Linked DNA regions of Homo sapiens: region 1 is linked to region 2. The links come from fine-mapping of genetic effects on gene expression. A gene starts in region 2. The other region holds a variant in brackets. All regions are shown on one strand. Distances are from middle to middle.

Region 1 (5,378 bases), 47 kb after region 2:
AGTGCTGGGATTACAGGCCTGAGCCACCATGCCCAGCCTCATTTTTATTTTTATTGTAATGATAGCTTTATAGTTTTATTTTCTCTCTAACCCACTGGTCATAATTTATATCAAATTATGGCATTTATAGAACTTGAATTCAGTATGTTAAAATGATGTTTTATATTTTTGCAATCAATAAATGATCAAAGTTATTCCTTTGTTTTACATTATTTTGCCCTTTAGAAGTTTTAGTTGAGGTTATGGTGTGGTTAGAAAAAGATGGATATTTTTTTCACCATTCATTAGAATCCTAAGAACCAGAAAATATTTGTATCTACTTGACAACCAGAGTATTGAGAGTTAAATTGATGAGTTTTACTTTATATTGTTTACATTTAAATATTAGGTTTGGGGCAAGATGGAAAGACACTGCTAATTACGAATATTGACATGGAGCCATGCACGGTAGACCCCCAGCTAAGGATTATTCTTCAGTGGCTCATTGCCTCTGAGGCTGAAGTTGCAGAACTTTATTTTCATGACTCTGCAAATAAGGAGTTTATGCTAGTAAGTACCTACCTTACAGAGTGTGAGGATACATTTAACAGTATATGATGTTCTTGTCATGTGATTGGTCTAACAAGATGCCTGGTGATGGTTAAATTCTTAGGCTGTAGTGTCCAACAGTTTGGGTTCAGACATCAGCTCTGCCACTTTCTAGCAGTATAACCAGAGGCAGGTTCACCAGTCTGTCTCATTGCCCCTAACTGCACTATGCAAATGAATATAGAATCTACCTTACAGGGGTTTATGAGGATTAAATATAATGTTAAAAAAAATGCTTGGTCTAATGCCTGGCATAACACTAAGCTCTCAAAGGTAGATGCTATTAATAAGCATTGTGTGTGTTCCTATGAAAAAATTGAATTATTCTCTGTATTTAATTGATTTGTAATTGTACCTAATGATTAATATATCTGTTTCTCTGATAATCCAGTTTCATTTGTATGAGCAGCTGTCATAATTAAAAGCCGATAAAAGTTTAAACAAGATGCTTACTATGTGCCAAGTACCTTATTAGTCAAGATTTTCAGTTTACAGTCTTAAGGTTTTTGTTCCATAATTTTCTTTATCAGAACTTTCCTTTTGGGGTGGTAGAAATATTCGAATTGTGGTGTTGGTTGCATTCAACTTGGAGAACATACTAAAAACCATTGACTAGGACACTTTGGGTGAATTGTATGTTATGTGAGTTTTATCTCAATAAAGCTGTTTTTAAAAAGGTTAAGCATATATATGTTACACAAAATTAAAGTAGTTTTTCAGAATTTAACTTACAGATCTTTCAAAACTTAAGAGCTTTTACAGAACTTAGTAGAAAAAGAAATGAACAAAAGCATGTCGTGAGTGGTGACAACAGGATTTATTTAAACCTGTATTTATTTATTTATTTATTTGTTGTTTTGTTGTTGAAACATTAACATTCTTTAACTTAGAAAGCCATGTTTCCATTGAGGCTAGAGTGTGTATTCCAGAAAAATGCCACACTATATGTTGTGGAAGGAAAATCCACATCCTTTTATTGAGTTTGACGTTGTCTTTATTATTTTATGTCCTAATTGAGGGTGTGGCAGTTGTATTTAGTTAGGTGAAGAATTTCCTGTAGAAACTCAGCCTCTGCATGTCCATGCAGACTATTTGCTTGGTGAGGTTTGTGGAGCTCTGTCTCCAGCGATCCCAAAGTGTCATTCTCTGGAGGAGATGTGTTTATAAAGGGGAAGAAGGGAAAATGTTTAATTTGGGTAAAGGGGTAGCGGTTTAGAGGGGAAGACCTTGTTATAACTAGGAAACGGTATTTAATTGTAAACAGCAGGATTCTTAAGTTTCAGCTAATATTGAAAATAAAAATAAAAGCTTTGTTATAAAATTGTTTTTGGTTAATGTTTGACACATCTTTCTTTCTTAGCTTTCAAAACAATTACAAGAGAAAGGATGGAAAGTGGGAGACCTCCTGCAGGCTGTGCTTCAATACTATGAAGTGATGGAAAAAGCTTCCAGTGAGGAGAGATGCAAGTCGCTGTTTGATTGGCTCTTGGAAAATGCATAGAGCAAACCCCAAACCAGTATATTTTAGTATTTGTTTGGGGAGGGGAACAAGCCAATAAAGATGTTTAGGATAAAATTTGAATAGTGAATATTAACATCGTAAGTCAGTTGGGAGGCAAGTAAATATAGCTTTCTGAGCGCTTTGTGTTATCACTCGGTGTATATAGTTCATACTTTTGTAATCTGTCAAAATACTACCTTCATTTATTCTTCTATACACATGTGTAGTGTGTCAAGACCCTAAGAACATGTATTTGAAGGAAGGTCTAACCAGGGGGTTTTCAGGGGCATTGTCTGACCACATTCTTTTTGTATCCAAATAGTGCTGCTAGAAACTGCACTGAAGTGGCTGAGGATAGGTTCCAGTGATAGAGTTATAATTTTGCTCCTTTGCAAACAAATGGTATCTAATTAATAACTAGTCTGACATCAGAAAATAAAATTGAGGCTGATTTTTAAAAATTTCTAGTAGATTTTTGGCCTTTCCTGTTTTTAAAAATCAGTTTCATTTTCATATTTCATAGATCAGCTATTGGTAGCTTTTTGATTTCCCCAAACTATTTAATTTCTTAGCAGAAACATTAGTATTTTAGGTTTCTATAAACACTATAAGTGATAGTTTCCCCCATCCTTTCATTGACATTATTTGCCAATGCTGCCAGTCATTCTGGCATGAAAGGTGTGTGTGTGTGTGTGTGTGTGTGTGTGTGTGTGTGTGTGTGTAAGGGAGTACTTTAACCTTGCCAGTTTGTTCCCTCTTTTATTTTACTGTTTTCTTTTTAGAAACCCACTGTTAAAATTTAAAAAGGTGCTTTAAAATAAAACGCCTATAAAGATTGTGCAGTAAGAATTTTTATTGACAATAATTAAAATTTTTTTTGACAATTTTGGGTTCCCAACTTATCTTACAAGTGAAAACTTAAATTGTAAAACATGTTGAAATTTTAAAAATTAATGTTAATATGGAAATGCATTTAGAGAAGCCCAGTAGTTTTTATTGTTGGATTTTTGAAAAAACCTCTACCAAGAATGTGGTGTTTTTTTT[G/T]TTTGTTTGTTTGTTTGTTTTAGAAAAATTGGGATTTCCCCCCACCCCGCCCCACCCAGATAAACTATATCTACACTGTCTCGTCAAGTTCTCTGACACGATCTTTCTGGGCTCTACATTTCCTACTAGTTTGTGTCCAGAAACTGCAAGTTGACATGAATAGAGGACAAAGGTTGTGTCTTGCTTTTGTCTCTCTCTTCCCTCCCTGCAACTCTCTCTCCCCTCCTCCCACTCTCTTCCCCCTCCCCCCTCCTCCCACTGTCTCTCACCTCCCCCACCCCCCACTCTCTCTCATCTCTCGCTGTGTCCTGTGTATGTGTGGGTGTGTGTGTATTTGGGTGTGTAAATGTTGGTTCTTCCACTACTGGATTTTGTAATCTAGGATAAATCACTTTTTTTGGGGACTTTGATTTTGCTCCATTACGTTTTCATTTTTTCTGAGCACTGACTGTTCTGAAAGCTGCACAAAACGTAGAAAGAAGACATAGCGCCTGCCAGGGAATAGGAAATGAGGGCACTTACACATTAATGTGAATTAGTAATTGTGGTATAGAAATGTTTTATAGTGAAAGATTCAAATTTGCTTTTCAAGAAAAATGCCAAAAGCTATTTAAATAATTCGAGGTTACATCGTAGGTTTTGATTTTTCTCAATTTAAGATACAGAAATACAGCAAGCCTTAATATAAAGTTTCCTAAAGTTTCTTCAAGTATTTTTTAAGGTGGAGAAATGCAGGAATTGTATAACCAGAATTGTTCCTGCCTTTAGCTTTTCAGAACTTGAGATGTGGCAGCACTGGACTGGGTTTTTTTAAATGTTAGGACTAGGAATGTTTGCTCTTGTTAATTATGAATTAATTGATTATTAAGTTTAGAATGCATTTTTACAAGTATCTAACTATCAAATTGTGTTTAGTAACTTGAGTGTATGCACAAGTTTGATCAACAGCAAAATAGAGTTCTGAATTTCTTTTAAAGTGATGATATATTATTTTGTGAAACTTTGTGTTTGAAAATGTTTATTTCTGTTTATGGTGTAATCATTCTGAGGTGAGGCTTTTCTTATTTCCTTTGCATTTTGCTAGAGCTGTGCTGAGTTCAGCATTTGCTTATTTAACCACTACATAATGACAGACCAGTTATTAGGTATTAGCATGTGTGGTAATAATAATAGTGGAACTTCACACTTACATCAATTCAGTGCAGGGGCATAGAATAAAATATTAAATATTGGCAGATGTATGAAAAGAAGTGTGAGTTAAAAATATTGAATATTGGCAGGTGTGAAAACAAGTGTCAAAATTCCTCATATAGAGAAAATAATTTTGAGTTTAGAGTATTATCTTTTAATTAAGTGTAGTCTAAACTTAACTTTCTGTAAAGGCACTTTGTGGTTTTTCCAAAGATGTTCTAGATCTATTTGGTTGCTCTATAGTCAAACAGCTCTTTTGAAGACAACTGTCTTATTTTATTACAAATTGGCTTGACATATTTATACTGTAACATTGTAATATTGCTGTGCTGTACATTTTGGCCCTTACGAAATACGTCTTTTTCAGAACTGTTAAAGTTTTGATGTACATCGAGCTGAATTCTGTTTTTACCAGTTTCAAAACCTTCAAGTGATATGTGGAAAAAAGTGAATGAGACCTCTGATAGGGGGTTTTCAGAACCTTGTTCACACCAAAATGTGACAGTTCTTTCATGTTTTCCTAAACCAAGTTAAAATTACATGTATATTTTGGTGTTAAGGTTGATTTTTAAGATACTTCTGATTTGTACAAAAGGAATGTTTCCTTTATAAATCACAGAAGAAAATGACAATATCTGTTGGATATTTGATATAATTTAATGGTGTTATAAAACCTTTAAGAGGATTCATGGTGAATATATGTGATAACATCTTTATACTTTGAAAAATGTTCCACTTACCCTTCAGATATTTGTTGTAAGTTAATTCAATTCTTAATACTTTAATTTTGCTCCAACAAGGGCTTTATGTTGCTGGTAAGAGAATTTATTTACTAAATGCACTATGTATAAAGTGAAAGATAGTTTACTTATCTGACTTTGATATTAGATGGCTGACATTAGTGCACATAATGCAGAGTTTAACCTTGATTCTTCAACAGAGTCCAGATTTAAATGTCTACTTAGTTAATTAGTTAGCTGATATTCTTCCACAATTAATATATTCAATTTCCCATCAGTATATCACTTTAAATTTTATGTTTTTCTAAGGAAAC
Region 2 (5,378 bases):
TATCACTAATGACAGAGCTTCGAGTTGGAACTCATCTCCTGATTCGTTTCTTTTGGTGAAACATCCTCTTGATTTCTGAGCTTTCAACCTCTATCTTTTCAAATCTTACACTAAAGAATAAGTATCTGCGTAGAATTTCATTTTCTGTTCCCAGAATTGACTTTAAGAATAGACAGAAGAGGTGGTTGTCAGTGTAGCATAATGGAGGGAAAAAAATTAAAGATGGGCCCTTCCTTTTCAGCCATTTGTTTTCCCCCAGGTAACAAAAGAAAATCCTCCATTTTATTTTTCCTAGTAATTAGGAGAAATCCACATGTTTCAACAAAGGCAGAAACAGCATGAGGACTCTGACCTAATGGATTTTAGAAATGTTGAGATCATAGGAAATTAAATTAAATTTCATGACTGTCTCTCACCTGGCCTATAAATCTCCTAATCTCCCTTACTTCTGCTTTGGCCTCTTTAAGACCCATTCTTTTCAAAGACGAGACTTTTTTTTTTTAAAAAAAAGTAAACTCTGGGTGTCTCTCCCCTATTAAAAACTCTGTAATACCTTATATTGCGTTTAGAATAAACTTTCAATTCCTTTCTTGGCTAACAAAGCCTTACAGGATCTGGCCCATGCTAGTTTCTGACAGAGCAAGAGCATCACCATCTTGGACAAGCACCGCCATTTTAAGTTCCCCTTGATTAAAAACCGCCTAAATCCAGCCCCAGAAACATCAGCCTAATGGCTAATGTCAGCATGACCATAAACCACAAATAACACTTCTGACCAGAAACTTTCCAACCCTGAGATAAACCCCACTCTGATCAGAAATATGCCTCCCCTCCAACCAGAGACATTACACCCCTGACAATAAAACTCTCCTCCACCCAGAAACATTCCAAGTCTACAATATGCTCTCCCTCCCTAAACCACTAAATACCTTTAGTCTGTAAGAGAGAACACTCCTGACCGAAATCGGCCAGAAGCCCCTCTCAGGTTTATTCTCCAAAATAAACCTGTCTCTGTTAAGCTGCTTTTTGTGTTTCTTTCTTTAACTCTTACAGTTTCCATCTCCAGGCTCAAGAAAGTTTACTTTCTCATTTCTTCTTCCCTCAAATGCACTAGAATAGATCCTTACTTAGGGCCTTTGAATTAGTGTTATCCTTTTCCTGGAATGCTCTATGCTCTGATTTTTGCGTCTGTTATTCAAATCGCTGCTAAAATATCTCCTCCTTAAAAGGGCATCCCCTTTACTAGCCACTCAGTCACCATCACCATCACGTCACTTATTGTAACTTCTTTGCATACAGCTTAAAACCAACAGATTTTTTTTCTTTTCACCCTCAGATAAGTTCCCTAGAATCTACACTACTTGTCTTCATCATTGTTCAATCAACAGCCTAGAGTAGTGTTTGTTGAATGAAGAAATGAACAAACGAATGCACCCTTTCTTCCGTGACCCTCTCCTCTGAACAGGGCAAAACTTAACTCATAACGAGGATACACTCAAAAATGTCTTTCTTATTGCCAGGTGTTTCCACTCTTGAGGAACAGATGCCCTTTAGGAGACAGGGCAATTTGACTGGACTGGCCCTTCCGATTTTAGGTGAAAATAATCACCATAACAGCTTTTCATCTCTGGCTAGGCTTCCCAGTGACCAAAGCTTTACTTTCCGATTTCCATACCACGTAAAGACATCAGGGTGAGCACTAGGGCCCTGAGAACCCTGGAAGCTACTTCTTGGCTGGGATAGGGCTGGTTGCCCGGTGCGCTGTGAGTGGTCCTCCCCGGAGATGCTGGGAGAAGGGGCGGAGCCATCAGAAAGGATGAGCCTTCCTTGGGCCTTCGGATCTGGTGGGGCTGCCACTTTGGGAAGGGCCCCGGGCTTCGGAAGAAAGCAAAACTAGCCTTGTGGCGAAGAAGGAGCCCAGCTGGCCCCAGGCTGTTAAGACTAAGGGGTCGAGGGAAAAGAGGCAGAGCCTGAAACCAAATCTGCGGAGCAAGCCAAGGCCTGGGGACTTGCCAGAGGGAAGGGTTAAGCCGTTTCCAAGGCAACGGACCAGGAAGCGCGCAAGACGTCCGCCGCAGGTTCGTAGGTCGCCCTCGAATTTAAAGCTCCCAAGGCTGAGTGGGTCCCGGCCAATGGAGAGGCCCCCTTTAAGTCATGTGACCAGCGGGGCTGCCCCGCGGGCTGCTCCGCGGGCTGCACTGGAGCACGTGGGAAGGCTTTTTTTCCTGTTCCTTCTTTCCCTTTTTAAACGCCCACCCACTTTTGCGCGGGCTCGGCCGCGGAATTTTTCTCGCGAGAGGCGCGCTGCCCTCTCGCGAGAGAGAGTGGGAGGCGTGGAGAGTAGGCGGTGTTGCGGGCCGGAGCTGCGGCGGCGGCGGCGGCGGCGGAAGCCGAGGGGTGGGCAGGGCGGGGGCGGGCCGCGGGGCTGGGAGGGGGAGGGCTGGGGGTCAGCGCGGGAGGGGGCCAGCTTGCTTGCCCGGCTCGCTCACGGGTCGTTGAGGCCGGTGACATGTCTGTGAGCTGCGGAGGCTGCGGCCCCCAGGTGAGCCGGGCGCCGACGTGCTCGCCGCGGAGGCTGCGTTTAGATGGGGTGGCGGCGGGTGTGCGGCCGGCATGGATGGAGCGGCCCGGCTCCGGCGCTCCAGCCCCTCCGCCTGCCGCTGGTCCCCCTTCTGGCTTCGGGGCCGCCCGAGAGCTGCGCCTTCGCATGGCGGAGGGAGGAGGGCGGGAGGAGCGCGGCCGAAGGAGGAAACTCACCGCACCGGGCCCAGAGTAGAGGGAGGTGCTGGGTCTCGAGACGCGTCTTCCTGGGGTCCCAAGTGTGGCGGTGGAGCTGCCGCCCCTTTTAATGACAGGCTGTTTCCATCCCCGGGGTGGTCTTCAGAGACGGCCCCCCGGGTGCGTGGTGCGCGTGCTTAGTGTGTGTTCGTGGTGTGCGCACAGGAACATTTGCAGCGGTTGGGAGGACGTTGCACTTTGTTCCCGAACAGCATCCTTCACTGTCAGACCCCCGGAGCCTTGGAAGCAGGCGCTGCTCAGATCTTGTAAACGGAAGGCGTCAAGGGGCTCCTCAGAGTATTGATATTTGGATTTGCTGTCAAATACTCTCCTAGGCTGTTAATGGCTTAAGGCTGGCCATAAAGTACCCCGAATGGATTGAGTATACTGCTGTTAATCCAGGCATCTAAGCTGCTTTATAAAAAATATGTAGATGTAACCGAAGTATTAAAAAGTGACAATGACAGTAAAAGCTAACATTTTTTCTCTTCCCCATATTACCAGCTTTCATTTTTTTTCTCTGCTTTGTCTGTCTTCTAAAACCATATAAAGTTGGATGTGGTTTAGCTTTAGATGTTAAGGAGTTTCATGGTGAGAAAGACTGCTGAGATACATACCTAATAGCTTTAGTACAAACTGGAGTTAATTCCTGTTCTCTTTTCAGCTTTTCAATCGCTTGCAAAATGCTCGTTTTGCTTAGCTGCTTCCCACTGTTTTAGAAATGTCATGTCGATTGTTATTTTGTTATGTCTGAAAATACTCAAAATATGGAGTACTAAGAAAAAATGGGGTATCAGTAATGCACAGATATATTTTTTTTAATGTCATCATTTTAGGATGGCAGCCCAGTGCCTGGCATGATTGGTGTCAGTTAAAATAGTGCAATTGAATGATTTTTTTTTTTTTTGAAAAACACATTTACTTTTTCAAACGGTACCCTGATTATTCATTTTTTCTTGTCGTTGTTCCTCCTGACAAAACTGACCCAGGGGTGGACAGTGAATGTCACTATTGTAGCTGTAACAGTAATTTATGAAAGGTCAAAGAATGTAAGGAAATCAGGGAAGAAGTGGGTTCCCAAGCTGAGCTAGAGACTAATGTATGTACCCACATAACTGCAGTATCGACAATATTGATAAGGGCCTAGCAGTGGACTCCTAGGCCAGTGATATTTTGCAGTTGTTGAGGATATGGGAAGTTGCCTAAGACATGGAACCATAGTGAGAAATTCTCTAGCCTTCTCTAGCCCCCTGAACTCCAGGGATAAGTCTAGAAGCTGAAGAAGTCCTCTTTTGCCTTTAGAGGCTGGAAAAAATACGGTACTTTTAATTTTTTTATTTTTTAATTTTAGGAACTTACTGTCTGGAAAAGGAACTCAAACCAATTTGGACAATATATTAAAGGCCGTTTTAAGAGAAAATGCCAGTTGTAAATAGGTAGAGGAATTCTGTCTATACGTGACAAAAATGTGAAAGACTTAGAAAATATCTCTTTGTGAATGGGCAGAGGAGACCAGTGTTGATTAGAAAAAATTCCTTCTTACTCCATCTTAGCAAACTAATTTTCAGAAGTAGAAAAATAAATTTTTTGGCTGGTCTTCATAACCTTTTGGCAAGGGTTTCAAACTTGTAGGGCGTGTGGTGTTTGGTTTTTCAAAAGTAATTGAAGTAACTTTGGATAGGGTAACTGATTTTGTTTTTTTTCCTGTCTTGTGGTCTGCATTTTATTAATCAACTACCTGGAAGGATTGAAGGGTGAGGACAGGTCGAGAAAAGCTTTAAGTTAAGCCTGGGCATGAGTTAAGGGTCAATGAGCTGGTAATATGGGGAAGAGAAAGAAAAATGCTTTATCAGTTTAAAAACAGCCTGGAAAGATCCAAGTGTCTCGATTCTCCCAGTCATCCTTACATATAAAAGTTTATTAAAAAAATACTTCTGGGCCAGGCTTGGTGCCTTACACTTGTAATCCCAGGACTTTAGGAGGCTGAGGCGGGTGGATCACTTGAGACCAGGAGTTCAAGACCAGCCTGGCCAACATGGAAAAACCCTGTCTTTACTAAAAAATAAAAAATTAGCCACGTGTTATGGCACATGCCTGTAATCCCATCTAGTCGAGAGGCTGAGGCACAAGAATCGCTTGAGCCTGAGAGATGGGAGATTGCAGTGAGCCGAGATCGTGCCACTGCACTCCACCCTGGGCGACTGAGTGAGACTCTGCCTCAAAAAACAACAACAAAAAACTTCTGGAGTAAAGGCATTTGAAATTTGTAGATTAGAGACTGGACATGGTAAAAGGAGAAAAGTTATCATTTTTAGAATAATCTGAGAATGTTTCTTGGGAAATAAATGGGGTAGAGGCCTGGAACAGAGAGGATGTTACTTGACTGAAAATGAGGTATATTGTAAAGAGTTTCGGTTTGGGAGTCAGGTCTATTAATTAAATGAGCCTCATTTTCTTCATACCCACCTCAAAAAGTTAGTGCGAAGCACATAGTAGCTGCTTACTCAGTGTTTTTATTTTTACCTCCCGTAATGGTTTGAGGATTCTTTGATTGCAAGGAAGAAAAAGCCAATTTAATTAGCCTACTTAAAAAAAAAGCA

Which allele goes with the higher level. Positions count from the first base shown, and alleles are read on the strand shown. Sizes are in standard deviations (SD) of each study's normalised expression.
For the expression in neutrophils of the gene that starts at base 2,466 in region 2, allele T in region 1 goes with a higher level than allele G (large effect, 1.0 SD a copy in Naranbhai 2015).

The links. PIP is the estimated chance that this variant, and not a neighbour inherited with it, causes the effect. A credible set is the group of variants that fine-mapping cannot tell apart.
Region 1: its variant is the best candidate, but not a certain one, in a credible set for the expression of AKAP11 in neutrophils (Naranbhai 2015, PIP 0.76).

What each region holds. Positions count from the first base shown.
Region 1 is chr13:42,317,140-42,322,517 of GRCh38, forward strand. AKAP11 (A-kinase anchoring protein 11) reads left to right here. Exons shown (of 13, transcript NM_016248.4): 12 at 389-549; 13 at 1,949-5,378. The coding sequence ends at 2,089. Among named protein-coding and RNA genes, the nearest start is that of AKAP11, 48 kb to the left of the region's middle. The variant G/T (reference allele first, on the strand shown) is at 3,134.
Region 2 is chr13:42,269,687-42,275,064 of GRCh38, forward strand. It overlaps AKAP11 (A-kinase anchoring protein 11), which reads left to right and starts at 2,466. Exons shown (of 13, transcript NM_016248.4): 1 at 2,466-2,542. RefSeq lists an enhancer at 1,656-1,835 and a silencer at 2,376-2,725.